7 linked regions of the Homo sapiens genome follow. The protein of the gene in region 1 purifies or fractionates together with the protein of each later gene. This does not show direct contact. Each region holds a gene or a part of one and is shown on either strand. Other genes may lie near its edges. The genes, in order: SLC30A4, SPAG9, CSTF2, PRPF40A, RBM25, STX8 and C19orf25.

Region 1 (4,278 bases):
CTATTGTTCCTTGTGCCATCTCTAAATGTTCTAGAATATCAGAGCTGGAAAGAAGTAAGTGTGTGTGTGTGTGTGTGTGTGTGTGTGTGTGTCAAAGCTGGAAAAAAGTGTGTGTGTGTGTGTGTGTGTGTGTGTGTGTGTGTGTGTGTTGCCCAGGTTGCTCTTGAACTCCTGGGCTCAACTGATCCTCCAGCCTCAGCTGGGATTATAGGCACAGCCACTGTACTCAGCTCTGGAAAAAGTTTTAGCAGCCACTAGTTTAAGCCCCTTGTAATAAAGAAGAGGGAACTCAAGTTTAGAGTTCAGGTATTTGCTTTCAAGGTCAAAGCATTAATGGCAGAGCCAAGACTAGAACCCACTCAGATCTCTGGATTTTCAGTCCAGTGCACATTTTACTACCTAGTAATTCAATCACGAGTTTTAAAATTGAGTTATCTGGGCAATCATGGTGGCTCATGCCCGTAATCTCAGCACTATGGGAGGCTGAGGTGGGTGGATCACTTGAGGCCAGGAATTCGAGACCAGCCTGGCCAACATGGCGAAACCTTGTCTCTACTAAAAATACAAAAATTAGCTGGGCATGGTGGTGTGTACCTGTAATCCCAGCTACTTGGGAGGCTGGGGCATGACAATCACTTGAGCCTGGGAGGCGGAGGCTGCAGTAAGCCAAGATTGTGCCACTGCATTCCAGCCTGGGCGAGAAAGTGAGACTCTGTCTCAAAAATAAATAAATAAATAAATAAATAAGAAAATTGATTTATCCAGTGAAGGCACTACAAAAGCCAAATACAGATAAGTTACCCTGTGACGTGATATCATTTTGTTTACTGCTAACAAAAGAACTATAATGATTGTCAAGTAAACTTACATCAATGTAAAATGAATAGAACTGGCACTGGTGTCCAGTATACTGATATGACAATCAGCCTTAGTTTTCATGTTGAAATTAAGTACATTTTAAAATAGAAAAATTACCAATCATATTACCTTGAATCGTATGATGTATGCAGCTATTAGCACACCAACACTCTGTACCAAATCTCCCAAAGCATGTACAAATGCAGCTCTCACTGCCAGGCTATCCTGCCCATGGTTACGTTCACACCCAGAACCTCTGGTAGGGGAATTTGAAGGCAGGGAGTGGGAATGGGAGTGACGGTGACCAGACTGGTTCAACAGAAACCCCATTCTGTTAAAAATAAAAGAAAACATTATTATTTTTCCCAATATTGACAAAAACATTTGTCACTAGTCAGACACTAATGAGGTAACATGGAACTCATTTATTTAATAAATTTGGAGCAACTATTATTTATCAGTACTGTTCTAGGTACTTGGGTCAAAACAGTGGTAAGATAGACATATCCCTACCCCCATGGAGCTTATGTTCTAGTAGAGAAGGCAGAGAAGCCAACAAATAAGTACATAAGGTATAGCCAGGCAATGTGAAATGCTTTGGAGAAACATAAAGCATTGTAAGGGGATGGAGGATGATGGGCAGAGTGGTAAGGGAAGGCCTCTCAGATTTTCTCTAAGCAGATACCTGAAGGAGGTCAGAGAGCAAGTGGTGGAAGAGTGTTCTAGGCGGAAGAATAGCAGAGCAAAGGCCCCAACATGAAAATGTGCTCTGTGTACTTGAAAAAAGAAAGCAGCCACTGTGGGCCAGAATAAAGTGAGCAAAAGTGCTAGGAGATGAGTGGTAGAGGTACACAGAGTCTTACTAACAAGGCTGCAGTAAAAATTTGATTACATTCAGGGACTGTTGTGGGGTGGGGGGAGGGGGGAGGGATAGCATTAGGAGATATACCTAATGCTAAATGACGAGTTAATGGGTACAGCACACCAACATGGCACATGTATACATATGTAACAAACCTGCACGTTGTGCACATGTACCCTAAAACTTAAAGTATAATAATAATAAAATTTAGAAAAAAATTCATTTCATTCTAAGTACAAATAGAAGCCACTAGGGCAGGGATTGGTAAACTGTGGCTGGTAGATCATATTTGGCTCACTGATTTTTTTTTTGTACATAAAGTTTTATTGGAACACAGCCATGTTCATTTGTTTACATGCTAAGTGTGGCTGCTTTTGTTTTATAACAAGTGTTGAGTAGCTTTGAAAGAGAATATATAGATCTCAAAGCTTAAAATATTTACTATCTAGCCTTTTACAGAAAAAAAATTGCTGACTCTGGTCTAAATGATTAAATCTGTTAACTTCAACTTTATTATTTTTTGTTTGTTTGTTTTTAAGACAGGGTTTTGCTCTGTTGCCCAGGCTGGAGTGCAGTGGCCCAATCATAGCTCAATGCAGTCTTGATTGCCTGTGCTCAAGTGACCTTCCCACTTTAGCCTCCCAAGTGGCTGGGACCATAGGCACGAGCCACCGTGCCTGGCTAATTTTTATTTTTAGAAGAGATGAGGTCTCACTATGTTGGCCAGGCTGTCTTGAACTCTAGAGCGCAAGTGATCTTCCCACCTTGGCCTCCCAAATTGTTGGGACTATAGGTGTGAACCACTGTATGTGGCCTAACTTAAACTTTCAAAACTTTCTTCCCTAAAAAGTTTTAAGGGAAAAAAATTGATAGCTTAAGAAAAAAAATCTAGTTAACACAAAAGTATTCTAAAAGTTAAACAAGAACAAAAAACTTTGTCCTACTTAAATTCATGATTTTGACTCAATCTCCAATATACCTGGGCAAACTAATGAGGAATTTATAACGTCCATAGTGTTTCATTTATCAGAAAAGTTAATGAGTTATATCATTTTTAAAATATCAAAATATCACTGAATATTACTGAATGCATATGCAATAGTCTCTGAGTTCACAGTACTTGAAAATATTAATGTGAAAAAAATAGAGCTTACATTACATTAACTGCAACTCCAACAGCTGCGGTGATGAGCATTATATCTCCATTTATTTCATAGTTCATATGGATAGTTCTTTGCACAGCTTCATATAAGAGGAATCCCATAAGTATATACACCAACAGCACACTAATCATAGCTGACAAAACCTCTAGAGGGAAAAACACATATAACAAATACATTTTCAGCATGGTTACTACACTTCATACCAACTAAATATTATATAGTCTTTTTTATATTCTTTCCTCTAAGGAGATAAAAGCCCTCTATTGTTTCTGTCACGTCATTTTTCTTATTTATTTTTTTGAGACAGGGTCTCACTCTGTCACCCAGGCTGGAATGTAGTGGCCTGATCATGCATGGTTCACTGCAGCCTTGATCTCCCAGGCTCAAGTGATCCTCCCATCTCAGCCTCCAAGTAGCTGGTACTATAGGCACATGCCACCACACCTGGCTAATCATTTTTCTTATTTAAAATGTGTTTAGCACTTACAGAAAAAAAAAGTGGTTAGCAGCTTGACTGATATGGATCCTCCACTAATTTACCCTTACCTCTCCCTACCCTCCACTCCTCTCTCTCCAGGGTCAAATTATGTATATTTACAGACCATGCACAAGGTAGAAAATGACAAAATGAGAAAAAATATTTGTCACGTATGTGATCACAGACTAATTTCTTGATAGAAAAAAGTACACTCAAAAGTCAGTAACAGGTAAGGTGTGGTGGCTCATGCCTGTAATCCTCCAACACTTTGGGAGGCTGAGACGGAAGGATCACTTGAGCCCATGAGTTTGAGATCAGCCTAGGCAACATAGTGAGACTCCGTCTCTCTTGGTTTTTCCCTTCCCTTCATGTCAAATGGGTAATGTGCCAACGTTGTAACAAGGTTCCAGGGTGGCACGTCTCACACATGTATGTGAACACCTAATTATCAAGCTCATGAACTACAAGAGGATCAAGACTCTATCTCTAAAAAACACATTAAAAATTAGCTGGACATGGTGGTGAGCACCTATGGTCCCAGCTACTCAGGAGGCTGAGGTGGGAGAATTGTTTAAACCCAGGAGGTCGAGGCTGCAGTGAACCGTATGCTACTGGACTCCAGCCTGGTCTCCAGAGCTGTCTCAAAAAAAAAAAAATCAATAAGAAAATTCATAATAAACAGAAATGGCCAAATTCTCAAAATCAGTCATAATAAATGAAATTCAGATAGGAATAAGATTTATTTCCTCCTATTAAATTGGCAAACTTTTTTTAAAAATCAAAAGTTTGATAATAGCCAGAGTTAGCAAGGATCTACCGGTGGAAGTATCAAATAGTATTACCTTTTTAGAGAGCCAATTGGTAAAACTAATCAAAACTTAAAATGTGTACATTACTTGATCTAACAATTGTACTTT
Region 2 (3,500 bases), on another chromosome or scaffold:
AGTATTACTTCTATGGTGAGGTTATTGTTCATTTTATAATATTAGGTTATAAGACCTGTATTTACAACCATTAGTTATTTTAAGAAAACATGAAAATGCTAAACATTTCTAGACTTAATATTGTTTTCTTTTTCACCTGAGAAGCTGTGGTGTGCTGTTGGAGTCAATTTATCTGGTGGGAAGACCAGAGATGGTGGTTCTGTTGTTGGAGCAAGTGTATTTTACAAGGATGTTGCTGGTTTGGATACAGAAGGCAGTAAACAGCGAAGTGCCTCTCAGAGTAGTTTAGATAAGTTAGATCAGGAACTTAAGGTAAGTGTGTGTACTAACATTTGACCTGGTTTATGAGACTATGAGTTTAACTCTTTCATCCAAAATTTGCCTCTGGGTCCAGCTTCTAATTGGGATTACTATGCCCTGGCTTACTGTCCCTCAGCACCCTTTTAAAATCAATTTTAAAATATTGAGGTATAATTTACATGCAATAAAGTGTGCACTCGAAATGGGTATAGGTCAGAGTTTTGACACATGTGTACACGTATGTAATCACTACAGTGATCAAGCTAATGGAACATTTTATCATTGTTCTGCTTTACCTGTTAGTTTTGTGTTGCTGTTTAGAGACAGAGTCTCACTCTATCACATAGGCTGGAGTGCAGTGGCATGATCATGGCTCACTGCAGTGTTAACCTCCTGGACTCAAGTGATCTGTCCACTTCAGCCACCCAAGTAGCTGGGACTACACACCCACACCACCACACCTGGCTAATTTTATTTTTTGTAGAGACGAGGGTTTCACTGTGTTGACCAGGCTAGTCTCACACTTCTGGCCTCAAGCAGTCCTCCCACCTCAGCCTCCCAAAGTGCTGGGATTACAGACGTGAGCCACTGTGCCAGCCTAACTGCTAGTTTTTCATCTACTAATTAATATTGATAGGTGGTTGTATTAGTCTATATTCACACTGCTGATAAACACATACCCGAGACTGGGAAGGAAAAAAGAGGTTTAATTGGGCTTACATAGGTAACCTCTGGGGAGGCCTCAGAATCATGACAGGAGATGAAAGGCACTTCTTACATGGTGGCAGCAAGAGAAAATGAGGAAGAAGCAAAAGTGTAAACCCCTAATAAACCCATCAGATCTCGTGAGACTTATTCACTATCACGAGAATAGCATGGGAAAGACTGGCCCCCATGATTAAATTACCTCCCCCTGGGTCCCTCTCACAACATGTGGGAATTCGGGGAGATACAATTCAAGTTGAGTTTTGGGTAGGGACGCAGCCAAACCACATCAGTGGTTGTATTTTTACCCTTCCAAATAATCTGGAAATAAATTTGAAATAGTATTGCCTTTTACTGTAACAGCACCACCTTATGAATATTTGTACATACATATTGTTTTAAACATTTTTCCTCCTTTGCCTATACAGGAACAGCAGAAGGAGTTAAAAAATCAAGAAGAATTATCCAGTCTAGTTTGGATCTGTACCAGCACTCATTCGGCTACAAAAGTTCTTATTATTGATGCTGTTCAACCTGGCAACATCCTAGACAGTTTCACTGTTTGCAACTCTCATGTTCTGTGCATTGCAAGTGTGCCAGGTAAGAGTGAGTCATGCGTTTCTCTGCCCTCCCCTCCATCCACCTACCTGCTGGGCACTGATGTAGCAGCTGAAGATGCAGTTCTGCACCTTGCTGTCATGAAGCTTATGTTCTAGTTAGGGAAGATTAAAAAACAAACTGGAAACCATTGAATAAAGAAGATATTTTCAGGTAGTGAAAAATACTGTGAAGAAAATAAAACAATGGGAATATGAGAAAATAACTGGGAGCCAGAGGACTGTTTGGATTAATTAATAAGGAAAGGTCTTCTAAAGTTTTGGATTAAACATTATGTGATGTTAAAACATTAGTTTAAAAATTAAAGAAGTGTATGTGATATATCCATATGTTGGAATATTATTCAGCCATAAAAAGGAATGAAGTTCTTTTTTATATTTTATTGTGGAATACTTAATATGAGTTCTACTTTTTTTTTTTTTTTTTTTTTGAGACAGAGTCTTACTCTGTCACCCAGGCTGGAGTGCAATGGCATGATCTCGGCTCACTGCAACCTCCACCTTCCAGGTTCAAGTGATTCTCCTGCCTCAGCCTCCCGAGTAGCTGGAATTACAGGCACCTGCCACCACGCCCGGCTAATTGTTTGCATTTTTACTAGAGACGGGGTTTTACCATGTTGGTCAGGCTAGTCTTTTTTTTTTTTTTTTTTTGAGATGGAGTCTTACTCTGTCACTCACACTGGAGTGCAGTGGCACCGTCTCGGCTTACTGCAACCTCTACCTCCTGGGTTCAAGTGATTCTTTTGCCTTAGCCTCCCAAGTAGCTGGGACTACAGGCACGAGCCACTACACCCGGCTAATTTTTGTATTTTTGGTAGAAATGGGGTGTCACCATATTGGCCAGGTTGGTCTCGAACTCCTAGACCTCGTGATCTGCCCGCCTCGGTCTCCCAAAGTGCTGAGATTACAGGTGTGACCCACCACCCCGGGCAGTCAGATTAGTCTTGAACTCCTGACCTCAGGTGATCCACCCGCTTCGTCCTCCCGAAGTACTGGGATTACAGGCATGAGCCACTGAACCCAGCCTGAGATCTACCCTCTTAACACATTTTTGTTTTTGTTTTTTTGAGACAGGGCCTCACTCTGTTGCCCAGGCTGGATTGCAGTGGTGCAGTCACAACTCATTGTACTCATTGCAGCCATGACCTTCCGGGCTCAAGTGATCCTCCCAGCTCAGCCTCCCAAGTAGCTGGGACCACAGGCGCACACTACCACACCTGGCTAAGTTGTTTGTACTTTTTGTAGGCAGGGTTTCACCATGTTGCCCAGGCTGGTCTGGAACTCCTGGGCTCAAGTGATCTGCCTGCCTTGGCCTCCCGAAGTATTGGGATGCCCAGCCCTCTTAACAAATTTTTAAGAGTACAATACATTATCCTCTAGGTAGAAGTTCTGACACATGTTATAACACAGATGAACCTTGGAAACACTATGCCAAAGGAAATAAGTCGGACACAAAAGGACAAATATTATATGATTCCGCTTATATGAGATATCTAGAATAGGCACATTCATAAAAACATAGAGTTTCTGTGTGAGGTGATGGAAAAGCTTTAGAAATAGGCCGGCCATGGAGGTTCACACTCATAATCCCAGCACTTTCAGAGGCCAAGGTGGGACGATCACTTGAGCCCAGAAGTTTGAGACCAGTCTGGGCAATATAGTGAGACCTCATTCCACAAAAAATCAAAAAATGAGGCGGGAGGATAACTTGAGTCGGGGAGGTCAAGACTGCAGTGAGCTACGATTGCACCACTACACACCCACCTGGGCAATGGGAGTAAGACCCTGTGTTTTAAAAAAAAAAAAAAAAAAAAAAAAAAAAAGACCTGGCATGGTGGCTTACACCTGTAATCCAGACACTTTGGGAGGCTGAGGTGG
Region 3 (4,278 bases), on another chromosome or scaffold:
CCAGAGGATTAGAGGCCCGTGCAATGGAGGCCCGTGCGATGGAAGCTCGTGCAATGGAGGCCCGAGCGATGGAGGCCCGTGCAATGGAAGTCCGAGGGATGGAGGCCAGAGGCATGGATACCAGAGGCCCAGTGCCTGGCCCCAGAGGACCTATACCTAGTGGAATGCAGGGTCCCAGTCCAATTAACATGGGGGCGGTTGTCCCCCAGGGATCCAGACAGGTATGTGTAACACTGACTTCTGGCATCCAAGTGAAATCTTGATCTATTCAGGAATTGATTATTGAGCCTAATTATTACTGCCTTCTGACTTGGGCTGTTTCTTAGCTTGTTAGAAAGGGAAGACTTGGATCTCCCTGTAGCTTCTCTGTCCCTTAGGGTGGTGATTTTCTGGCTATCAGGATTGTAGTTCAAAAAAAAACAACCTTATCCCACAATAAATAGCTATTCATTTGGAGCAGAGCCCCTGAAAATTTAGGGGTTAGAAAGTAGTCTTGATTGGGGTACAAACCAACATCATGTACACGGTTTTTTCCAAGATATACTTGCCCGGATCTCATCCGAGGTATAACTCAGAATCTCTTATTAGTAGGATCTGAGCATGGATAGTTTGAAAAACTTCCCCCAAATGATTCTAATGTGAACCCTGACTGGGAACCACTGGGTTAGAGTATATGAAGAGCTGTTAGTGGCCATTTAGATAATCTTAGGTTTAGAGAGACCTGTGTTAATTTATTGTCATCACATAGCCTAAGTGAACAGTGGAATGTGAAAGGCAGTTTATTAATAATCACCTTAAAAGGTGTGGAACCGAAGTCTTGTCTCCTCTCTTTTATTTGGATCTCTCTGCCTGTGTGTACATGCTCCCTCTTCATCTCGACTTGGTTGTGGAGAGGTGGTATGTGTGTTTCTTCCGTGAGTTTTTATATGCTGGCACCTTCATTTCCCTCTAACTGCTCCACCTTCCTTTTCCCCCCTTCCTCTGCGTACTTCTCTCTTCTTTTTTTATGTGTCTTCCTCCCCATGTCTGTGTGTATGAGAGAGAGAAAGATAATGGCAGAGCTGGAATGGAATACATCAATCATCTAATTCCCTCAGTTTATAGATTTGGAAATTAAGGCCCAAGAATTCAGGTGACTTGACCAAATTCACATGACTAAAAAGTGGCAGAGCAAGGAACAGAAGCCACTACTTTTTCCACTTTACTACTCTGTCCTGTTATCTGCACATTTGTGTGTGTGTATATGTGTGGATATGTGTCTACCCCCTCCTCTGTAATATGAAATACAAATAGAGGGTTTTTTTGCTATGTGTAGAATAAAACTGTTCTCTATTGTGTTTGAAGTGTTTGTGGGCCTTGATTTTTATTGTACTCTCTATGGTCAGTAGCCTAGTAACAGAAATGGTTTTTATGCATTCATTCTGTCACTCAGCAAATATTTATTGAGCACCTACTATGTACCAAACATAGATCTAGGTACGGGGGATACTGCAGTGTGAACAGAACAAAGCCCCTTCCCCCATGGGCTTACATTCTAGTTGGGAAGACAGATAACAAACAAATAACTACATAATGCGCTTACATAATTTTACTGGTAGTTCTATGATGCAAGACATTGCAAGTAAGGGTTGGAAGAACATTTCTGGATAATATTTTGCTCCTTTCTCTCTGCTGGTACTTGAACTTATTACCCTAATACTAGGTTTATACCATTTTTATTAGTAGATTCGATAAAGCCAATTAGATCTGAGGCAAGAGAAAATACAAATTTTATCTTCAAACCTTTAAAAAAATTTTAAATTAATATATTAACTTATAAATATATATATTCGTTCATCTATAAAAGATATATGTATTAAGAACTTCAAGCCAGGCATGGTGACATGCACCTGTAGTGCCAGCACTCTGGAGGCTGGGGCAGGAAGACCATTTAAGTCTAGGAACTTGAGGCTGTGGTGCATTCTGATCGCACCTGTGACTAGCCACTGCACTCCAGCCTGGGCAGCATATTAGACTCCCATCTTTAAAAAAAAAAAAAAAGCCAGGGTAGAATCCTGTAGTCCCAGCTACTCTGGAGGCTAAGGCAGGAGGATCAGTAGAGCCCAGGAGTTGGAGGCCCGCCTACACAAGATAGTGAGACCACATCTTAAACTAAAAGGAACCTTGCTTCCTCTCCTATGCTTGTCTCCCCTGTGGCCCTCTAGGTCCTGTAGATAATCACTTTTATTAGATTTTTCATGTTACTTTCTGGAAAACATGAATATATATTATTTTTCCCCTTTCACTGTTCTATACCTTTTTTTTTTTTAACTTAACAACATGTCCTTAATTCATACTTTTAAATTAGATTTTAAAATTAACTCTAGTCCACTTAGTTAGAAACTTGTGGGCAAAAGGCTTATTATTACTAGGGTGATTATATAATTTATCATCTAAAGGAGAACATGAAAGAAAGTGCTGTTACTTTACTTGGAGGCAAAAACATAAACTGGGACTATCTTAGGGAAACCAAGATGTATGGTCACTTTTGCTAGTACTTGTCTGCCTAGAACAAGCACACCTAGAAACTTAAAATGGCCGTTATTGAGTGGTTAGATCACAATTACAGTACCTCAGATTAAAGCTTCAAAAAGATTATACTCAATTCCGAATTGTGCTGCTATAAACTCATGTGACCAAACACCACCTGTTCCCCAATAACCTATGGAAATAAAAAATTTTAAAAAAAAAGATTATACTCATAGGTGTTTCAGACCCATAATAGCTCGTTAATGTTCAGACTGGTCTCTGGAAACTTGTCTCTGGTTTCAGTATTGATAATGAACAGAACAGTGATAATATTCTAGCAGTCTATACAAATCTGTACTAATGTTTCATCTATCCATTGTCTTTGGGAAATGAGTTAATGCATGTAAGTGAATGTTCCAGATAATAGAACTATTCTACCAAGTTTTTTAACTTTTTTAATAAAAAATTATAAAAAGTATTTGATATTTCCTTTCTTGAACAGGATACAAAAAAATAGTTTAATCAGTTTTGACTACTCAAGGTCATCATTGAATAGATTCATTATTGTCTATACCGTAATATAAAACATAGTTATCTCCTGTTTGGTTTCTGGTCTCCTTCACTGTCAGGCCGTCACCTGGCTCTTCATATTACTGAAGTGGTATCTGCTCCTAACAGTTATTTATCCGTATTTCTTTTATGTTTTGCTGCTTCTAATCTGCTGGGTAAGCAGGTAACAAGTTTGTTAACAATATGTGTTTATTAAGAGAGTACCTAAGCTCTGGGTGAATGCCTGAGTGTGAACATAATGCTTGTATAGGGACATTCTAACAGTTAGATTTGGTACTCAAGAGGTCTTTTCCTTGGGTTCTGGTAGTCTTGCAAAGGGTTGAACTCATTGAAGATCTTAAGTACCAGTAAGTATGATATCACTGTACTTGGTTTTTTCACTCCAGTCAGTCATATTTTTTGGTCTACATTTAGCAGAAAGCATCTGCCATATGTTCTCTATGGAAAGCTATAAACAGCAAATGTTGGGCTAATAGCAGTCTTTTTCCTGGAGGCCTTCCCATTGCCTTTCTGCCTCTCTGACATTATGAACATCTCTGCCTCACTTGTGGGATAGGGCCCTTTGGGACAAACTACCTGTATCTGATTGAACTAGGGTAGGGGGTGGCCCTGTGAATGTAACTTCCCCAGTGGACCAGCATACATTTTCTCTAGACTCTGTTGGCTTTCATTTGTATTTCCAGTGAGCACTAGTTTCCAGGGTGTTCTCAGTTTTCACTGTGCTTATTTGGCTGAATTTTGATTAATTCAGTGGTATCCAGTTGTGCTGTGTAATATTTGTTGATGATGCTGGAGGTGTTGTAAGCAAGTATGTCGAACTTGCTAGTTGATCTCTGGCTAAACCCTGCCTTCTGCTATTGCTAACAGTAGAAAATGATCTTCAGAGTCATTGATTTGCTTTTTTTACTCATATCTGTATAGAGATCATAATTTGTCACATTATTACTGAATTCAGGTTACCTATACATTAAAAATGCCAAAAATCTCTCTTTTCTCTTTGTACACATAGGTCCCAGTCATGCAGGGAACAGGAATGCAAGGAGCAAGTATACAGGGTGGAAGCCAGCCTGGCGGCTTTAGTCCCGGGCAGAACCAAGTCACTCCACAGGATCATGAGAAGGTAAGCAACACTGTCTGACTGCCTCCTTATGCACAATTCTAGCCTTTTTGATTCCTCTTTTCACAGTTACCATGTGACGA
Region 4 (4,278 bases), on another chromosome or scaffold:
CTGTCACCCTGGAGTGCAGTGGTGCAATTATGGCTCACTGCAGCCTTGACATTCCCAGGCTCAAGTGATCTTTCCACCTCAGCCTCCCAAGGAGGTGGGACTACAGGCACGTGCCACCATGCTCGGCTAATTTTTGTATTTTTTTTTTTTCCCCTAGAGACAGGGTTTTGCCATGTTGCCAAGGCTGGTCTTGAACTCCTGGGCTCAAGCCATCTGCTTGCCTTGGCCTCCCAAACGGTAGGGATTATAGGTGTGAGCCACCACGTCTGGCCTCCAACTTGATTATTGAATACAGTCTTTCTCCCCTTCTTCCAGTCTCTCAAAAACTTATTAAGTCAACAAGTTAAATTCTACATTTAACTACAGATTTATTTTGTACCTCATCAAGTTTCCACATTCATAATCATCTAGTTTTATTTAATGAGCTCTGGATCAGCTACTGCACATGGCAGAAAAGTATGACACAAACAACAATGTAGTAAACATAGGCCATGTAACACTAAACATCTTACTTGTATCTGGTTGTAGAAGTCATTTTCTCATGATTTTCAAGAAAACGCTGAAAGGATTCCTTAGCCTCTTTGTACTTTGATCTTGCTTCTTCTTTTTCTTCTTTTTCTGTCTGGACTTTATAGGCATTAAAGGCTTGCTTTTTTTCACTTAACTTTGCCAAAGCACTAATATAAAAATACCATGTAAGAGTAAACACAGGCAAAAGAATCAAATATTAGTGGTTTGAAAAAAAAAATAAAACTGTTTACACATATAATTTAAAAATTTTCAAAAATTTATTACAAATGATTGTAGAAAGTAATTTCTACTTTTAAAATAATTATTATTTTATATGTAGCGGAGTACTCAAATTGTTTGATAAGCCTTTGACTTTTTGGTTATTAGACATAAAACAACTCTATACTTGGTATCCTAAACAGAAGTCAACAGTTAAATGTTTTATCTTTCTACACAACTTTAAATGTGCTAGGCCTGCTATATGCTCAAAGTGAAAAGTAAATAAAAAGTTGAAGTACTACCTGTATCGTGGATCATTAATAATCATTTTCATAGCCTGCTCCCATGAAGCATTCGATGGTACCCGCTGAAAATAATTTAAATGAAAAATTAAAATTTCACACAAGAATAGTTTAAGTCACATAATAGGAAACTGAGTATAATACTAACTGCAAACATCAAGCATTTCCCTTTGCAGGAGTTTGAAACAAGTTATAAAAAATAGTTTTTTACTGAAGGCAAATCTGTGTAATACACCTATGAACTAAAATGAAAACTTTAACTGAAATTTAAATAGAACATAAATGCTTTTTTCTTAGACTATGGATAAAAGATAACTATTATGAATTAAAAAAAAACCCTTACATTAAATATTGGGTAGAAATGTGCTTGTGTAGTACCTTGTACACAATAGTTTTTGTGTTGAAAGTTTCACAAAAGTGTACTTCAAAAAAAAAAAAAAAGACATATTTAGTTGCTTTTCAGTTACAACAGTTCATGAGATTGGTATTATCAATACCATCAAGGTTTAATTAAAGAGTAACGTCATTTGTTGGGTAATTATTACACATCACATAAAAATCCATAATACATGCTTGATGTCAAAAAGCTAAGAAACAATAAAAATCTGCAATATTAATACCTTTTCTTTCAATAATTCTTTAAAAGCTTGCTTTGCCTCTTCCTTTGTATTCCAAGTGTATGTTTTCTTTGCTGGTTGGCTCTCCTCCTCTTCTTTTTTGGGAGTAAAACTAGAGAGAAATTCAAATGTGGTATTTATCAATTAAATAAATTTTTGCTTCATTTAGAAAAATAATGTCTAAATTGTTTAAATGTTTGATGTTGAAATAAAATTTGACATTTAGAATAAAAGCTATATGAACTCTAAAAACACACTTATCTGAAGACAAAGAAATAAAGATAATCGTTTCCTAAAAGTTCAGTTATTAAATCAGTTTTTAAGACCCTGGACAAATGACAAAATAAACATTTAACTGACTTAAAACACTAGCTCCTCTGGCCCATAGGTTAATAGTTTTAAATGGCTTATTAAACTCATTCAGTGGTTTCACATTAGTGCTATAATAACTCTAAGGATTTGGGCAAGTGTGAAGATAAATAAGATGTAAGGATCAATCTAAATCAGGATTGACAAACTACAACCCACTAGACAAATTCAGCCTATTAATTTTTGTAATTATAGTTTTACTTGAAAATGCCCGCGTTCATTTGTTTACACATTATCGCTGACTGTGCTACCACAGCTGAATTGAGTCACCATATAAAGACTGTATGACACAAATAATCCAAAAATATTTCCAATCTAATATTTCATGAAAGTTTGCTGAACACTGATGTCAAACAAAAATTACAACTACCCAGAATTACTAACTTGTTTAATAATTGGGGGTTTTCCTGATGAGAAAAAAATGGTAGAAGCCTTACATTTCTTTCTACATAATAAGGGAATGCATGGGTGGGGGCCAGGGAATGAAAAAAAAATAAGTAGAACGCTTAGGCGAAGAGACACTGTAGTAGATACTGACAAAAAATGATCTCTGTTATAGTAATTAAAATCAAAAGCGTATTATGACTCAGACACTATACCAAGGAAATGCTGGAATGAAAAAAAGCAGGAAACAACTGTTTAATGTTAAACTTATGGAAAACATTGAAGAAAACTTTCAGTATGACAAGACGCAAAATAAAGTTATTCCAAAAAGCCTAAATATCTATTGATAGAGGAGCACTTCCATTTATGCACAATCAAATGATAATAACCCATCATTTGACATGATGGGTACACATTTCTATCAATGTGGAAGATGTCTCTGATATATTAGATATATGTTCGTGTATCTTAAATGTAGAGAAAAGGGGGAGAAAGTATAAAACAAAATGTTAATTTCATTTTCATGCCTTCAAATACACCATACAGATTTCTTTTAAAACTTTTGAAACATCAGAAAAAGTTAAAAATCTATTTTGACTCTGGGAAACTAACATACGAAAAACAAAAGAACACTTAAAATAGGGGATGGATGGATGAAGGCAACATGCTTAAATATTAAGATGGATAATCATGTTTCAATAATGAGATTATGGTGAACTATTCAGGCCACCCTTAAAGTCAAGAAATTTAGCTTGACCTCACTTTCTAAAGCTCTATAAAGCATAGCCATATAAAATGTACTAGACTACAGGGTATGCAAGTACACACAAACCGTGAACTCTGACAGATAACAGCTTTGCTTTATTAAAAAGTTGTATTACTATAGTCTCACTAAGAGTGAAAAGAGAGTTTTCTTGTATCTGGTGTTATCTTTTAAATGTTTCTCTACTTGACTTTCACTTAGAAAAATAATCACAGTATTATTTTAACTTGTATTTCTTTATTATTATGGCTGAATGGCTTTTCATATACTTCCTAGACAACTTTCTTTCTCTGTAAATTGCCTTTTTTCCTTGGCCAGGTGGAGTGGCTCGCACCTATAATCCCAGCATTTTGGCACGCTGAGGCAGGCCAATGAGCTAGGCATGGTGTGTGTGCCTGTAGTCCCAGCTACTCAGGAGGAGGCTGAGATGGGAGAATCGCTTGAGGCCAGGAGGTCGAGGATGCAGTGAGCCCTGATCACGTCACTGCACTCCAGCCTGGGTGACAGAGGGAGACCCTGTGCCAAAAAAAAAAAAAGAAAAAAAAAAGAGAGACAGGGTGGCCTTGCTGTCTCACCCAGGATGGAGTGCAGCGGTGCAATCATAGCTCACTGCAGCCTTGAAATCCTAGGCTCAAGTGATCCTCCTGCCTCAGCCTCCTCAGTAGCTGAGGTTACAAGTGCTGGCTAATTTTTAAATTTTTTGTAGAGACAGAGTCTTGTTATGTTGCCCACGTTGATATTAAACTCTTGGCCTCAAGTGATCCTCCTGCCTCATCCTCCCAAAGTGCTGGGATTACAGGTGTGAGCCACCATGCCCAGCCATAAACTGCTTTTTTTTCCCCCATAATTCATTTTTCTACAAAGCTGTATTTTTTTAACTGATTTATAGGAGGTTGAAACCCAAAACACCAATAACCAAAGAAGAAACAATACACCTGTCTTAACTGAAAATACTGATAGTTTGTTAATCATGAATTTTTGCACTGATCTGATGTAAAATATTGCATCAAAATATGATGTATCTTGCTTACTAAGGTTTTTGGCAATCTTTTAGATTTGTGCCCCAACTCCCTAGCCTTGGCTCTACTTGTTAAAATTTCACTGAACTATTTTT
Region 5 (4,278 bases), on another chromosome or scaffold:
ATGAGGTGAAATGGCCTACTCTGCTCCCTTCTGAAGGGGGCAGCTATGACTGTGCTCCAGAAATGTGGTCTAGTGTTGCCAGGTCTTCATAGAGGAAGTTTGGGGTAGGAATTTAGAGTACTCAATCTCTAGTCAGACTACATTGGTTCAAATTCTCTAGTCAGGCTACATAGGTTCAAATTGCACTGCTGCCTCTTACTAGCGATAGGTCCTTGGTTGGGTTACTTAACCTGAGCCTCAGTTCCCTCACCTCTAAAGTGGAGGCGATGTAGCTACACACCATAGCAGTAGGTACTAAGTGGGAATTAAAAGAGTTGGTATGTAGTTAAGTGCTCTGACAACTGACTGGTATATAACAAGTGCTTAATAAATACCTGGGAAGAGACTGGGCACAGTGGCTCACGCCTGTAATCCCAGCACTTTGGGAGGCCTAGGTAGGCAGATCACCTGAGGTCAGGAGTTTGAGACCAGCCGGGCCAACATGGTGAAACCCGTCAATACTAAAAATACAAAAATTAGCCAGGCGTGCGGGTGGGCACCTGTAATCCCAACTACTTGGGAGGCTGAAGCAGGAGAATTGCTTGAACCCAAGAAGTGGAGGTTACAGTGAGCCAAGATCGCGCCACTGTCACTCCATATAGCCTGGGAAACAGAGCAAGACTCTGTCTCAAAAAAAAAAAAAAAAAAAAAAAAAAAAAAAAAAGAAAAGAAGAAAGAAATTAAAAGAAAGAAATTTCTGTCACTTTCTCAATGATAGCAATAATTAATTAAAGAACTTTTGATCAGATTTCTATGAGCCAGATTTGACTTTAGTTGAAGAACTCTGTTGTAACACTAATTCACATCTGAGTCACACTTCAGAGAGATGTAGGCACAAAATGCAACCAAACTTCATTTAATTTACATAAAATGAAAAAGGTATAATATAAAGAAGTCAGACTTTTGTTAAGAGTGAAACAGTACTCAGGCTAAAAATTCAGTCTCCTCATTTATTCAAGAAATATTTACAAGGCCCCATGAGCTTTTTAGCAGAGCTGTTTGACAACACTAGCTCAACTGGTTTCCTCTCATTCTAATCAACGAGCCACAAAATCATAAACAGTGGTCTAAATACACTTCAAATATCAATATATTACAACAGATCAAAAAATCTAAAATTAACACTGACATGAAATCTTTACTATGTATGATAGGAACTCTGCTGAGGCCAAACGCTAGAACACAGTTTTATTTAAAAAATGTCTTCACTCAGGCCTAACTACGACACCCTCTACTCCAAGAAAAACGGGGCTGGAAGCTTCAGGAAAGTTCAGAATTCAGCCCCAAGGACTGAAATCTATTCACATTTCTCCTTTCCTCTGAGGCAATGAAGTTTTCACAAATGTTTTATCAGGTGTTCTAAATGACAGCTGCATCAAGCTAGCTAGGCAGCAGAAAAGGAATGTTATCTGGCTTTAGACACCATAAAATGCCTGGACACAAAGCAGCTAGACCTCACAATCCTTCTTTTTGACTATAAACCCCACGATGTCCCTCCCTGACATCTCTGGTGGCAGTTCCAAGTGCAAGTACTCCCAGTCATCTACCATTTCATATCATGCTTGATGATTTTTCCTTCCTTACTCATCTTCCCATTGCTGTCTTCCCGCTCTGCCCTTTGGACCGCTATTCCATTTTATACTACACATCAACAACTAAATTAGGTTTTTCCTCTTAACAGAAACCCTCCTCTATCTCCTAGAGCCCCGGCACTTCTCAGGCAGTCTCTCACTCTCAATGTCTTAATCTCCACAGGAATGACTTGTGGGTCTTCACTGTTTCTTTCTTGGTAAAAAAAAAAACAACTCCATGGACGTTCATGAGCTCTCACCACCTTATCCACTGTAAGAGCAGCTATCTGGCAAGTATCTAGTCTTTCCCCCCACTTAAATGAGTGCTCTGGCAACTATTTCCAGTATTTCTCTCCAATCTGACTCCCAATACCCAGGAATTTCCCATAGTCATACTATGCACCTTGCCATCGTCTGGGCTGACCTATCACATATAGACTTGAACTTTCTACACTCTGACCATAACCTCTCCTTTCAGTTGTTTTATTACAATTCGCCTTCCACAACTTCACTGGAACCACTAGTCCTTAATTCATTCAAACCACCAGCTCTATTCAGATACTATTTTCTTCTCTTCCTAACTTGGAGATCATAGTTCAATCTCTTGCTCAACCTTTACCATCAATTTTCTTCTCCTTTCCTTGTCTCACAAAATCACAGTGTTAACTACATGCTACCACTGACTGTAATCCCAAATTAAATGCAACGGGGATTTGATGTTTACTGTCAATACAACAGGTGTTTGGATACCTGTCCAAAAAGCAGCACATATGTACAATCTTGTGGCCATAAAAAACGAAATAGTGTCCTTTACAGGGACATGGATGGAGCTGGAGGCCACTATCCTTAGCAAACTAACACAGGAACAGAAAACCAAATACAGTATGTTTTCACTTATAAGCGGGAGCTAAATGATGAAAAAACATGAACGAAGAGAGGGGAACAACACACAATGGGGCCTATCGTAGGGCAGAGGGTGGGAGGAGGGAGAGGATCAGGAAAAATAACTAATGAGTACTAGGCTTAACACCTGGGTGATGAAATAATCTGTTCAACAAACCCCCATGACACAAGTTTACCTATGTAACAAACCTGCACATGTATCCGACTTAAAACACACACACACACACACACACACACACACACACACGTATCAGTTCCTGTAGTAATCCTTGTGATGCTTAACCTAACTGCTATCAATGCCATCAGATGTTCTATCTCCTCTACCTCCATTATCCTTTCTACATATCTAATTCAAACAAGTACATCAAGGTTCCAGTACCTGTATACCTATCTCTCTGCTACTACAGGTCATTTGTTCTACTTTTATGCTTCTAGCACATTGTGCTGGGCATAGGGAAAACATGAATGGAACTGGTGGAAAAGAATGAAGCCTTATTTATTTATTTAGAGATGGGGTCTCACTCTGTCACCAGGCTGGAGTGCAATGGCATGATCTCGGCTCACTGCAACCTCCACCTCACAGGTTCAAGTGATTCTCCTGCCTCAGACTCCCCGAGTAGCTGGGACTATAGGCACACGCCACCACGCACAGCTAATTTTTGTATTTTTCATAGAGACGGGGTTTCACCATGCTGGCCAGGATGGTCTCGATCTCTTGACCTTGTGATCCACCCGCCTCAGCCTCCCAAGTACTGGGATTACTCAAGTTTTAATTCAGGCCTAAAAAAGATTCTGGAACAAAGACAGGCAGGAAGTGAATCAAATTCAAAAGTGAGTTTATATAGATGTTAATTAAAATATTAATAATAGTGCATTTCTGGCCAGGTGTGGTGGCTGATGCCTGTAATCTCAACACTTTGGGAGGCTGAGGCAGGAGGATCACTTAAGCCTAGGAATTTAAGACTACCCTGGGCAACGTGGTGAGACCCCATCTATATTTTAAGACAAAAAAAACCAAAAACTTTTTTTAAATTAAAAGAAATAAAAATAGTGAATTTCTAACTTACCATGGCAACATCATCTAAAATGCTCTGGGGTGAACTATGAGCCATAACCTAAAAGAGAAAAATAATTGTCACATTAAAAATAAATAAAAAATTAACAATACAGTCAAGAAATTTTAAGGTATGAATCCTCAAATTCATACAGGAACTTCTTGCGGCTAAGGAACCATTCTATAAATGTTTTAATTTTCAGAATATCATTCTTCAACGAAAGAGGCACCAAAACCTGGAATATTAATCTCCATAGTGGTCTGTAGTCTAATTTTAAGTCAAATCTCACACAAGTTTTAATGCCACAATAATTACAAGTTAGAGAAGACAGAGTAAATTTACTGTTCATAATATCAAAAGAGCACTACTGGCAAAAAAATACCATAGCTATACCTTTATAGAAATATGGTGTTTCTACTATGTTAACTGTTTTATTAAAGTTAAGACTATGTTTTCAGGAGACAATGGGAAGATATACCTTAGTGGTTAAGAGCATGGGTTTCAGAGGCTAGACTCAGTATAAAACATAGCCAAGACACAATCTCTCCTTAAACTTCAATTTCTTCATGTATAAAATGGGTATAACATTCATGACAGACAGATTCTAAGTGTTAGGTTAAAAGAAGTTTTTCTTTTTTCTTTTTTTTTATTTTGAGACAGAGTCTCACTCTTGTCACACAGGCTTGGAGTGCAATGGCGCAATCACAGCT
Region 6 (4,278 bases), on another chromosome or scaffold:
TGAGGTCCAAGGGAAGAGGCCTCAAGGCATGCGCAGTCACTGCCATCCCTGATTTGGCTCCCTGCAGTGAGGGACTGCTTTCCCCGGTCCCTGCTCCACGATGGAACTACAGCAAGCTTTTCAGAATGTAAAGGAGATCAGGTCACCTCCTTGCTTAAATCCTCCAGTGGCTGAAACTGAGATCCAAACTTTACAGTGGCCAAGGGGGTCTTGCACAGTCTGACCCAGCAACCCTGCAGCCGCACTCTGCGCGCTGTGTTTGAGCCATCCTGGCTGTCTCCGGTGCCCCCAACAGGCTGATGCAGAAGGTAGGGGCCCTGCCTCCCAGCTTCGACACGCGCTATCCTTTCCATCCGGGAGCTCCCCACTCGTGGTCTAGTTAATCCCTCAAACTCAGTGGCATTTTCCCAAAGAACTCTTTGTCATCCTCCAGTTACCTGTGCCCTCTTTGCCCCCCTAAGTTTCCATGGTAACTCTTATTAAATCTTTTTTTTTTTTGAGATGGAGTCTCGCGCCCAGGCTAGAGTGCGGTGACGTGATCTTGGCTCACTGCAGCCTCCGCCTCCTGGGTTCAAGCAATTCTCCTGCTTTAGCCTCCCAAGTAGCGGGGATTACAGGTGCCCACCACTATGCCCGGCTAATTTTTGTATTTTTAGTAGAGACAGGGTTTCACCATGTTGGCCAGGCTGGTCTCGAACTCCTGACCTCAAGTGATTTGCCCTCCTGGGCCTCCCAAAGTGCTGGGATTACAGGCGTGAGCCACCGCGCCCGGCCTTGAATCATTATTTAGGTACTCAGTTACTGTCTGTCTCTCCTGGACACATGAACATCTACACCAGGGACTGTGGGTTCTCGTTCACCGCCATATCCCCCGTACCTAGAACAGAGCCTGGCACAGGAAAGAGGCACACACACACGCGCACGTGTGTGCATGTGTGTGTGTGTGTATAAAACAAATGAGTAAATGTATTGAATTTTTGGAAGGGATAAGAAGAGTCAAGAGAGGCATAGAAGGAGTGGTCAGCAGAGAGGGAGAAGCTGAGAAAATGTGGCAAGAAGGCCAATGAGTAAGAAAATTCAAAAAGTGGCCAATGCCAACCCACAATACTACAGAGACAAGATAGAAGAATGCTCTTCCACAGAAGAGCTGCAGAGACCTTTCATAGTACAGTTTTAGCGCATGGTGGGTGGGTCTAGTGGAACTATTATTAATACAGTGGTGGCTAAGCTGCTAATTTTTCTACCACAGATGCTGTGAATTAGACAAACTGTGCCCCAGGAAAGGCATGACAGGGCACACATTATCTATAAAAAATGAAAATGGGCCAGGCGCTGTGGCTCACGCCTGTAATCCCAGCACTTTGGGAGGCCAAGGCGGGCGGATCATCTGAGGTCAGGAGTTTGAGACCAGCCTGGCCAACACAGAGAAACCACGTCTCTACTAAAAATACAAAAATTAACCGGGCATGGTGGTGCACGCTTGTAGTCCCAGCTACTTGGGAGGCTGAGGCAGGAGAATCACTTGAACTCGGGAGGCGGAGGTTGTGGTGAACTGAGATTGTGCCACTGCACTCCAGCCTGGGCAACAGAGCAAGACTCCATCTCAAAATAAATAAATAAATAAATAAATAAATATATAAATAAATAAATAAATAAATAAATAAATGAAAATGAACTTGAGTGATGGACATCTTGGACAGTAAGCTGATAAGATGTGATAAACTGGGTTCTTGTCCCAAGATGAAAAGGAGGATTTTAGGAGCCATGACAAATAAGGCTTTTATATTTTAAACCCTTTCAGAGCAAACAGGGGGAGACTTTAAACAGGCTTAAGTAAACTGGTATATACTGAGGGTCAACTGAGGAGGTCGTTTTAAGATGGCAGGTGACAGCGATAAGCAAAAGCCAACTGCTGTCTTTTGGATTCTTTGGGTCAAAGAGAAGGTGTTTATCTACCTTAGCACGGCAATCCTTTTTCTTTAAGAAGTTTGGCTTTCTTCGAATGTGATCCCAGCTCTGGCACCTTTCTGAATGGAGTTTCTCTCCTCTGAAGGATGTTTCGGAATGAGTAAGCAGGGATCTTTTTGAAGCCAGGGAAAGCTGAGCCACACCGTTCATGAAACAGTCATGCGTGCCAGGTTTGGCACTAAGTGCTATGGGTGTATTACTTGGTTTAATTCTGCACAGTAAGTAACCCTCATCTCTGTTTTATATCTGAGGAAGCTGGGGTTCTGGAAGGTGAACTCTCCTACCTAAGGCCCTCTGGCGGGTAAGAGGAAGAACTAGAATTGGAATCCAGGTGGGTAGGACCCCTCTGCCCACACGCTCACCCTTGTCTACACCAGTGGAGCTTGAGTGGAGGCATCCTGATTCGAGACAGTGTGGGGGTCCCTCGGGGAGAGAGGCTCAGACTCACTGGGGTTGAAACACCGGGATCAAGAGTTTCTTCTCTTTTCATCCTCTTCTCTTTCTCCCTCCCTCCTTCCCTTCCTTAACGTTTTATGATGGAAAATTTTAAACATATACAAAAGCAGACCGAAGGGCACGCAGAACAGTGATGAGCCCATCCGTCAGCTTTCGCAAGGATCCATTCATGGCCTGTCTGGCTTTATGCAAACCCTCACCTGCTCCCTGTCTCCTGCATATTATTTTGAAACAAATTCCAGACATAGGTCATCTACAAATATTTCAGTAAGTATCACTAAAAGGCACCATTAAAAAGACACACACACTCCCCCACTACCCACATAACCACAGAGGGTCTGACGGTTCCTAAAGGCAGAGGCAGGGAAGAGCTGGCAACTCTTCTGATGTAGGAAGGTGGCTCCAGTTTCAGGGGCGCAGCCGACCCCCCTGCCGGAGGGACATGGGACCTCACATCGTACTCGGTCACGTGTGAAAAGCAGAACTTCCTTCTTCTGCCTCAGAATAGTTCTTAAACCTCAGGGGGGTCTACTCATCCATTCCCCCAGCTAAGGAAATGTTTGACATTTCAGAACAAGGAAAGACAGTTGAACTTCTGGGAGGCTGCCAACTTCTTAAACAATGAATGCTCTCTGCCCCCAACCCTAGCACAGAACACCTGCTGCGGCTCCTGACTTCGGGATCGTTTCTCTGCGCTTCACTCAGCTCCTGCCCTGGGCCCGCTGGCACCTGGCGAGGCAGATTTTCCCTTCCAATACTCAAGAGTCCCTTTCAGGGGCAGGCATGGGATGCCAGGGTTACAAGAGTGGAAAAAAATGTCCATTTCCTTTGGTCAGTTTACCAGATGAGTATTACTCAACCACTTACAATATTTACAAGTCCAGCTCATGGCAATTAAAAAAAGATGTAAGAAAACAAACTCCTTTTCAAACTGGGAGAGGATATTAAACACAGTCTCTCAGGAATGGTGTTTTCTGAAGACTCGTCATCTGGAGTCATGGTCCATACTTTTTTCCAGTGAAACACTGGAAACGAGCAAAATACGGAGCTTGTGCTGCCAACGCCCCTGCCACAAGTTGGGTGTAGGTAACAGCTCTCAGTGCTTACTGACATGGAGGAGGAGGGGAAGGAGGAGAAAGAATCTGGAGGCTGACTTTTCGAGAGAGTGTGGATCTCTGTGTTGGCCACTTCTGCCCTGTAGCTGCAGGGGAACGTGGCAAGTAGGCTGATGGGAAAGCAAGAGGCAGGGAGGGGTGAAGGGCGCTTTATCCAGGAGTCTTTTTATCTGGTTTTGTTGCAAGGAAAGCCGCCTTAGCTGCCTACTACTATTTTGGTTGTCTTGAACCAAAACACATATTCTGGCCAGGCGTGGTGACTTATGCCTGTAACCCCAGCACTTTGGGAGGCCAAGGCGAGTGGATCACCTGAGGTCAGGAGATTGAGACCAGCCTGGCCAGCATGGCCAAACCCCGTCTCTACTAAAAAATGCAAAAATTAGCCGGGCGTGATGGCAGGTGCCTGTAATCCCAGCTACTTGGGAGGCTGAGGCTGGAGAATCACTTGAACCCGGGAGGAGGAGGTTGCGGTGAGCTGAGATTGCGCCACTGCACTCCAACCTGGGTGACAGAGCGAGATTTTGTTTAAAACAAAAACAAAAACAAAAAAAGCATATTCTTTTTGTTTGCCTCGCTTTTCACACCAGAAGAGTTAGGCCAACTGGCAACCCACACGTAGCTACTAAACTTAAAGATGAACAGAGGACACTTCTTAGGGACAATTCCTAAAGTTTGTTTTATTTTTTTGGCAGTTGTGCCTGTCAATAGGTGACATTTGCTTATGTATTAACCAGTGATC
Region 7 (4,293 bases), on another chromosome or scaffold:
GAGACCCTGTCTCTGAAAAAGAAAAAAAGAGAAAAATTGAGTTGTGTTTTCCCTTTAGACATATTTCAAGTGCCCAGGAGCCACACATGGCTGGTGGCTGGTGTGGACCAGCATCGGTGGGAGGTGTGCGCATCATCTGGAAGGTTCTGTGGGCCGGTACTGGTCAAGGTGCATGAGTTGGTTTTATTCCCAGCATGCAGTTCGGTCACCTGAGGGTGCTGGGGCCGTGGTTTGAGCTTCATGGGCTCAGGTCCATGGCCGTTGAGTGTGGCGAAACTGAGGCACGCTGTGCGGGGGACGGGGGGCGCTCACAGAAGGTAGGGGGCCTCCTGTGCCTTCATCCAGGCACTGCCCGGCCTTTCCCACCCTGTTGCTAAAGCAGGTGATGACAGAGGTGATTTGATCAGCCCAGACCCGTGCGGCACGTGGAGCCTTCGTCCGTGGGAGACCACACTGCCGAGGGGCAGGCCAGAGCCGAGGGGCCCCTGACGCTTCTCTGAGTGACCCTGAAGTCGGTGCTGCTTCAGCCCTGCTGCACTGGGCTTGCATACGTGGGGGAGCAGGGAGCCATACGTAGTTTCTGCTGAATGTGGGAGTCACCAGGACGTCAATGCCCACCTCTCACCTTCGCCACCCCTGCCTCCCTAAGTGTGTGCTCCAGGAGGTTGCACGGCCCCTGGAGAGGTTTTCGGTGGCGGGCTTGTTGCGTCTCTGGCTTCCAGAGACAGCAGGAATGAGAGCCAGGCCAGCTCAGTGGAGTCCATCCCGGTGGGTGCCACGGCTTTTGCAGGAATGGAAGCCCCGCCCCCAGGAGGGCCACTGCTGGCGAGGCTTGAGCTCTTTCTGTGACCCGATCCCCCTGGTCACACGCTTTGCTAAGGCGGGTAGCCTAGAGCTGGAAGCCCCTCCTGCCACCCAGCCACTGTGCCTCTCCCAGCTGATGGACGAGGAAGCCTCCATTACTTGATTTTTGTTTTTATTTATTTTTGAGACAGGGTCTCATTCTGTCACCCAGGCTGGAGTACCGTGGCACGATCATAGCTTATTGCAGCCTCGGCCTCCCAGTCTCAAGCGATCCTCCTGCCTCTGCCTCCAGAGAAGTAGGGACCACAGATGCGTGCTACCACGCCCAGCTAATTTTTGTATTTGTATTTTTTGGTAGAGATGGGGGTGTCACTATGTTGTCCAGGCTGGTCTCTAACTCTTGGGCTCAAGTGTTCCTCCCGCCTCGGCCTCCCAAAGTGCTGGATTACAGGCGTGAGCCACCACACCTGGCTGCATCCGTCATGTTAAGAAGACCCCGGCTGGCAAGCTCACTCGGGGACTGCAGGGAACCCTGCCCTTTGGGGGCAGTAGTGAGGGGTGCCCAGGAGGATGGGGTGGTCAGCAGGCAGTGATGCTGCTGTGTCCTGTCTCAGACCCCCCAGTTCCCTTCAGGATGATGGAGGATGCGGAGGCCCCGGGAGAGCAGCTCTACCAGCAAAGCCGGGCCTACGTGGCTGCCAACCAGCGGCTGCAGCAGGCGGGCAACGTGCTGAGGCAGAGGTGTGAGCTCCTGCAGCGAGCCGGCGAGGACCTGGAGCGGGAGGTGGCCCAGATGAAGCAGGCAGCATTACCGGCAGCCGAGGCTGCCTCCTCAGGCTGACCTCTCGGGGCCTGCAGGCTTGGGCAGCGCACAAGGTGGCCTGCACCCAGGCTTTCCCTGGGGGTCCGTCGGCCCCAGACTGGCATTCACGGGGTCCCAGCCCACGTGGGTGTTGACACAGGCGCCCCTCCTGATGCTGGGGCTGCGGTTCATCCGTCGTCTCATTCATGCCGAGTTGGTGGGACCCACCCAGCTGGCTCCGTCCTGCGTGACCTGAGGGCCCCACTGGGGTTCTGGAAGAGGATAGGGACATTATTGCTGTACTGTGATTCTGTCGTCAGCTCACAGTGGCCGTGCTCTGCAGTGGGGCCCCTGGGAGCAGGTGCCACCTCCTTCCTCTCCCGGGGCAGGCACTCGCCTGTCCACTTCTGAGTCCAGGTGTTGGGATCGAGGTGTTAACTGTGATTCCATCCAGCGAGTGCCCACCCAATGTCAGAGCAGCCCGAGGGCCAGCCTGAGCCCCTGACCCCACTTCCTTCTGGGCCCCGGGCTCCTCCCACAAGCCACGTTGATCTTCACAACGACCCTGGGCCGCTGGGGTCACCCAAGAGAAGCAGCCCTGAGACCCAGCCAGGCTGGGCCTAGCTCCACGGCACGGGTGTCTCCCAGCCACTGCCCTTGCTGGAGGACCGCTGTGAGTCACTGGCCAGGAGCCCAGGGTGTCCTGAGTCTCATAGCCACCCTGCCAGCTGCAGCAGGTCCTGGGCCTGCTTCCCTGCGGGTTCTGGCCCTGGGGGAGGGGGCGTTAGTGCGGCGGAGGGTCTTGCCAAAGGCTTTTCATCCTAAATAGCAACTTGAGTGGAAACCTGGGCAAGGCGGCCCAGAGGCTGGGCCCTGCACATAAAGCTTTCGTGTGTGTCTGGCCGTCTGAATGGTGCCTCTGTGAGCGGCTCCGTCCCGGGGCCCCGGAAGCTGGGGAGGGATGGGTACCGGCGACCCCGGGAACCCTGCTCAGTCCTGCCGGGCACTGCATGCAGGGACCGTCCGCCTGACCCAGAGACCTGGGGCTGCCTCACCCTCTCTCCAGACCCACAGCCAGCTTTGTTTCTTGAATGTGGAAGATGTTTCTTATTCCCTGAAGAAAGGGGGCCTGCCACACACAGCCTGGGAGGCGCCTCATCCAGAAACTGGGACTTGGCTAGCCCGGCCTGGGCCCTAGGGACTTCTCACTGGTCATGCTTCTGAAGCTGCTCACCTGGCCGAGGGAGGTCCCGGCAGTGTCCCAGGGTGGAAGGTGGGGAGGGGGCCGGCTCCTGCCATCCCTTCCCACCCTGCACTTCTGTGCTGCTTGCAGTCATAGCTTTCCTTGTCCCCCCAGCTGGGCCAGGGCTGTGCTCCCTGAAGTGGCTTTGACGTGGGGCCGTCCCAGCTCCCGCAGCCCCTGTCCACCATTGACTCTCCCCGGTAGTGGCTGCTGTGGCTGCCCCATCCCAGCTGTTGCACCAGCCACAGCTCCTAGTGGCTCATGGGTGCCTCCTGCCCCACACTGGGGCCTGCCATAATAACTGGCCCAGGTACCAATGCCCAGGTTGGACCCCCTGTCTGGGGTGCTGTGCACCCCCTGGAGCCTGCCCTCCCTTGGGACCAGGGGGAGACTCCTGGCCTCAGCCAGTGCCTCCCCGGCCCATCTGGGTGGGGTGCCCACAAACCCTGTGCCCCCAGTTTCTGCTTTCTGGCTCTGCTTCCAGGGATCTAACCTGGGGGGTCTCAGCAATTCTGTGGCAGCACATAGACAGCGATGAACCTACCCGCCCACAGCCCATTTTGAGGAAGAGGTGATGGCGGCAGGCAATGCAAGAGCTCAGTTTATTAAATGTGTGCGAGTCGGACAGCTGACGGTGTCGTCCTTACGCCGGACAGATGGCTTTACATTTAGGGAAGGACAGGCTTTCACTATTTACCACTATTTACACGTCCGTTTAACACTGCAGAGACCCGGTACAGAAACGTGGGGTGGCGGCTAGGGGAATCAGACAGACCAGGCGCGCGCCATCAGGGCTGGACCGGGGCAACAGATGGGGCCGGGTGAGGTAATGCTGTCGGAGCTCGGGAGGACCATGCCGGTGGGCACGGCGCCCCGAGTTCAGCACCCACGTGTGGTCATGTTGGGGGCCAGTGGCGGTCACTGTCCATCAGCCTCAGGACACCTCCACCCTCCCTGCGTCCTCAGACCCTCAGCTCCTTAGGACTGGCCCTGGAGCATTGGGGGGCAGACGAGGACCCCTTGTCACCCTGGTGCAGAGAGGCCAGGTGGCCAGGCAGGGGCCGCGGTGGGAGGGAGGCCTTGCAGTGGGCGTACCTTGAGTTGATTGTCCAGAGACCGCGGACTGCCTGTCCCCTTCTGGAGACAGCTGGACTGGGCGGTGAGGTGTGGCTGTGGCCCCCACGGCAGGGGATGGAGAAGGCGAAAGTGAGCTCAGGACTCGGGGTGGGGGTGGGAGGCGGGGCTGGCAGCCATGTTGCGCACCTTGCTGCTGGGCAAGGCGTCACGGGCAGGAGCCAGCCAGACCCAAGTTCTGTGAGCTTCCAGGCGTCTCCCCATCATCGCTGCCACCACGCTCCCCCAAGAGGTAGCTCTGGGAGTTCCCCACGGCCCACATGGGGAAACAGAGGCAGGGAGCTGGGAGGGCGCCGCCCAGAGACTTACA

What was found.
Region 2: the proteins of SLC30A4 (region 1) and SPAG9 purify together in Homo sapiens (affinity purification with mass spectrometry; 2 studies listed by BioGRID and IntAct, with this or other methods). This does not show direct contact.
Region 3: the proteins of SLC30A4 (region 1) and CSTF2 purify together in Homo sapiens (affinity purification with mass spectrometry; 2 studies listed by BioGRID and IntAct, with this or other methods). This does not show direct contact.
Region 4: the proteins of SLC30A4 (region 1) and PRPF40A purify together in Homo sapiens (affinity purification with mass spectrometry; 3 studies listed by BioGRID and IntAct, with this or other methods). This does not show direct contact.
Region 5: the proteins of SLC30A4 (region 1) and RBM25 purify together in Homo sapiens (affinity purification with mass spectrometry; 3 studies listed by BioGRID and IntAct, with this or other methods). This does not show direct contact.
Region 6: the proteins of SLC30A4 (region 1) and STX8 purify together in Homo sapiens (co-immunoprecipitation; 3 studies listed by BioGRID and IntAct, with this or other methods). This does not show direct contact.
Region 7: the proteins of SLC30A4 (region 1) and C19orf25 purify together in Homo sapiens (affinity purification with mass spectrometry; 5 studies listed by BioGRID and IntAct, with this or other methods). This does not show direct contact.

The regions. Positions count from the first base shown.
Region 1 is NC_000015.10:45,487,854-45,492,131, forward strand, and holds part of SLC30A4 (probable proton-coupled zinc antiporter SLC30A4), read right to left. Parts: intron 3,835-4,278; exon of another isoform or gene 3,731-3,834; intron 3,029-3,730; coding exon 2,875-3,028; intron 1,190-2,874; coding exon 988-1,189; intron 1-987. UniProt on the Homo sapiens protein: Probable proton-coupled zinc ion antiporter mediating zinc import from cytoplasm potentially into the endocytic compartment. Controls zinc deposition in milk.
Region 2 is NC_000017.11:50,991,869-50,995,368, reverse strand, and holds part of SPAG9 (C-Jun-amino-terminal kinase-interacting protein 4), read left to right. Parts: intron 1-144; coding exon 145-312; intron 313-1,433; coding exon 1,434-1,605; intron 1,606-3,500. UniProt on the Homo sapiens protein: The JNK-interacting protein (JIP) group of scaffold proteins selectively mediates JNK signaling by aggregating specific components of the MAPK cascade to form a functional JNK signaling module.
Region 3 is NC_000023.11:100,833,252-100,837,529, forward strand, and holds part of CSTF2 (cleavage stimulation factor subunit 2), read left to right. Parts: coding exon 1-221; intron 222-4,087; coding exon 4,088-4,198; intron 4,199-4,278. UniProt on the Homo sapiens protein: One of the multiple factors required for polyadenylation and 3'-end cleavage of mammalian pre-mRNAs. This subunit is directly involved in the binding to pre-mRNAs.
Region 4 is NC_000002.12:152,671,947-152,676,224, forward strand, and holds part of PRPF40A (pre-mRNA-processing factor 40 homolog A), read right to left. Parts: intron 1,761-4,278; coding exon 1,652-1,760; intron 1,097-1,651; coding exon 1,032-1,096; intron 678-1,031; coding exon 513-677; intron 1-512.
Region 5 is NC_000014.9:73,113,636-73,117,913, reverse strand, and holds part of RBM25 (RNA-binding protein 25), read right to left. Parts: intron 3,629-4,278; coding exon 3,581-3,628; intron 1-3,580. UniProt on the Homo sapiens protein: RNA-binding protein that acts as a regulator of alternative pre-mRNA splicing. Involved in apoptotic cell death through the regulation of the apoptotic factor BCL2L1 isoform expression.
Region 6 is NC_000017.11:9,253,922-9,258,199, forward strand, and holds part of STX8 (syntaxin-8), read right to left. Parts: intron 1-4,278. UniProt on the Homo sapiens protein: Vesicle trafficking protein that functions in the early secretory pathway, possibly by mediating retrograde transport from cis-Golgi membranes to the ER.
Region 7 is NC_000019.10:1,472,384-1,476,676, reverse strand, and holds the end of C19orf25 (UPF0449 protein C19orf25), read left to right. Parts: intron 1-1,418; coding exon 1,419-1,645; 3' UTR 1,646-3,476; downstream 3,477-4,293.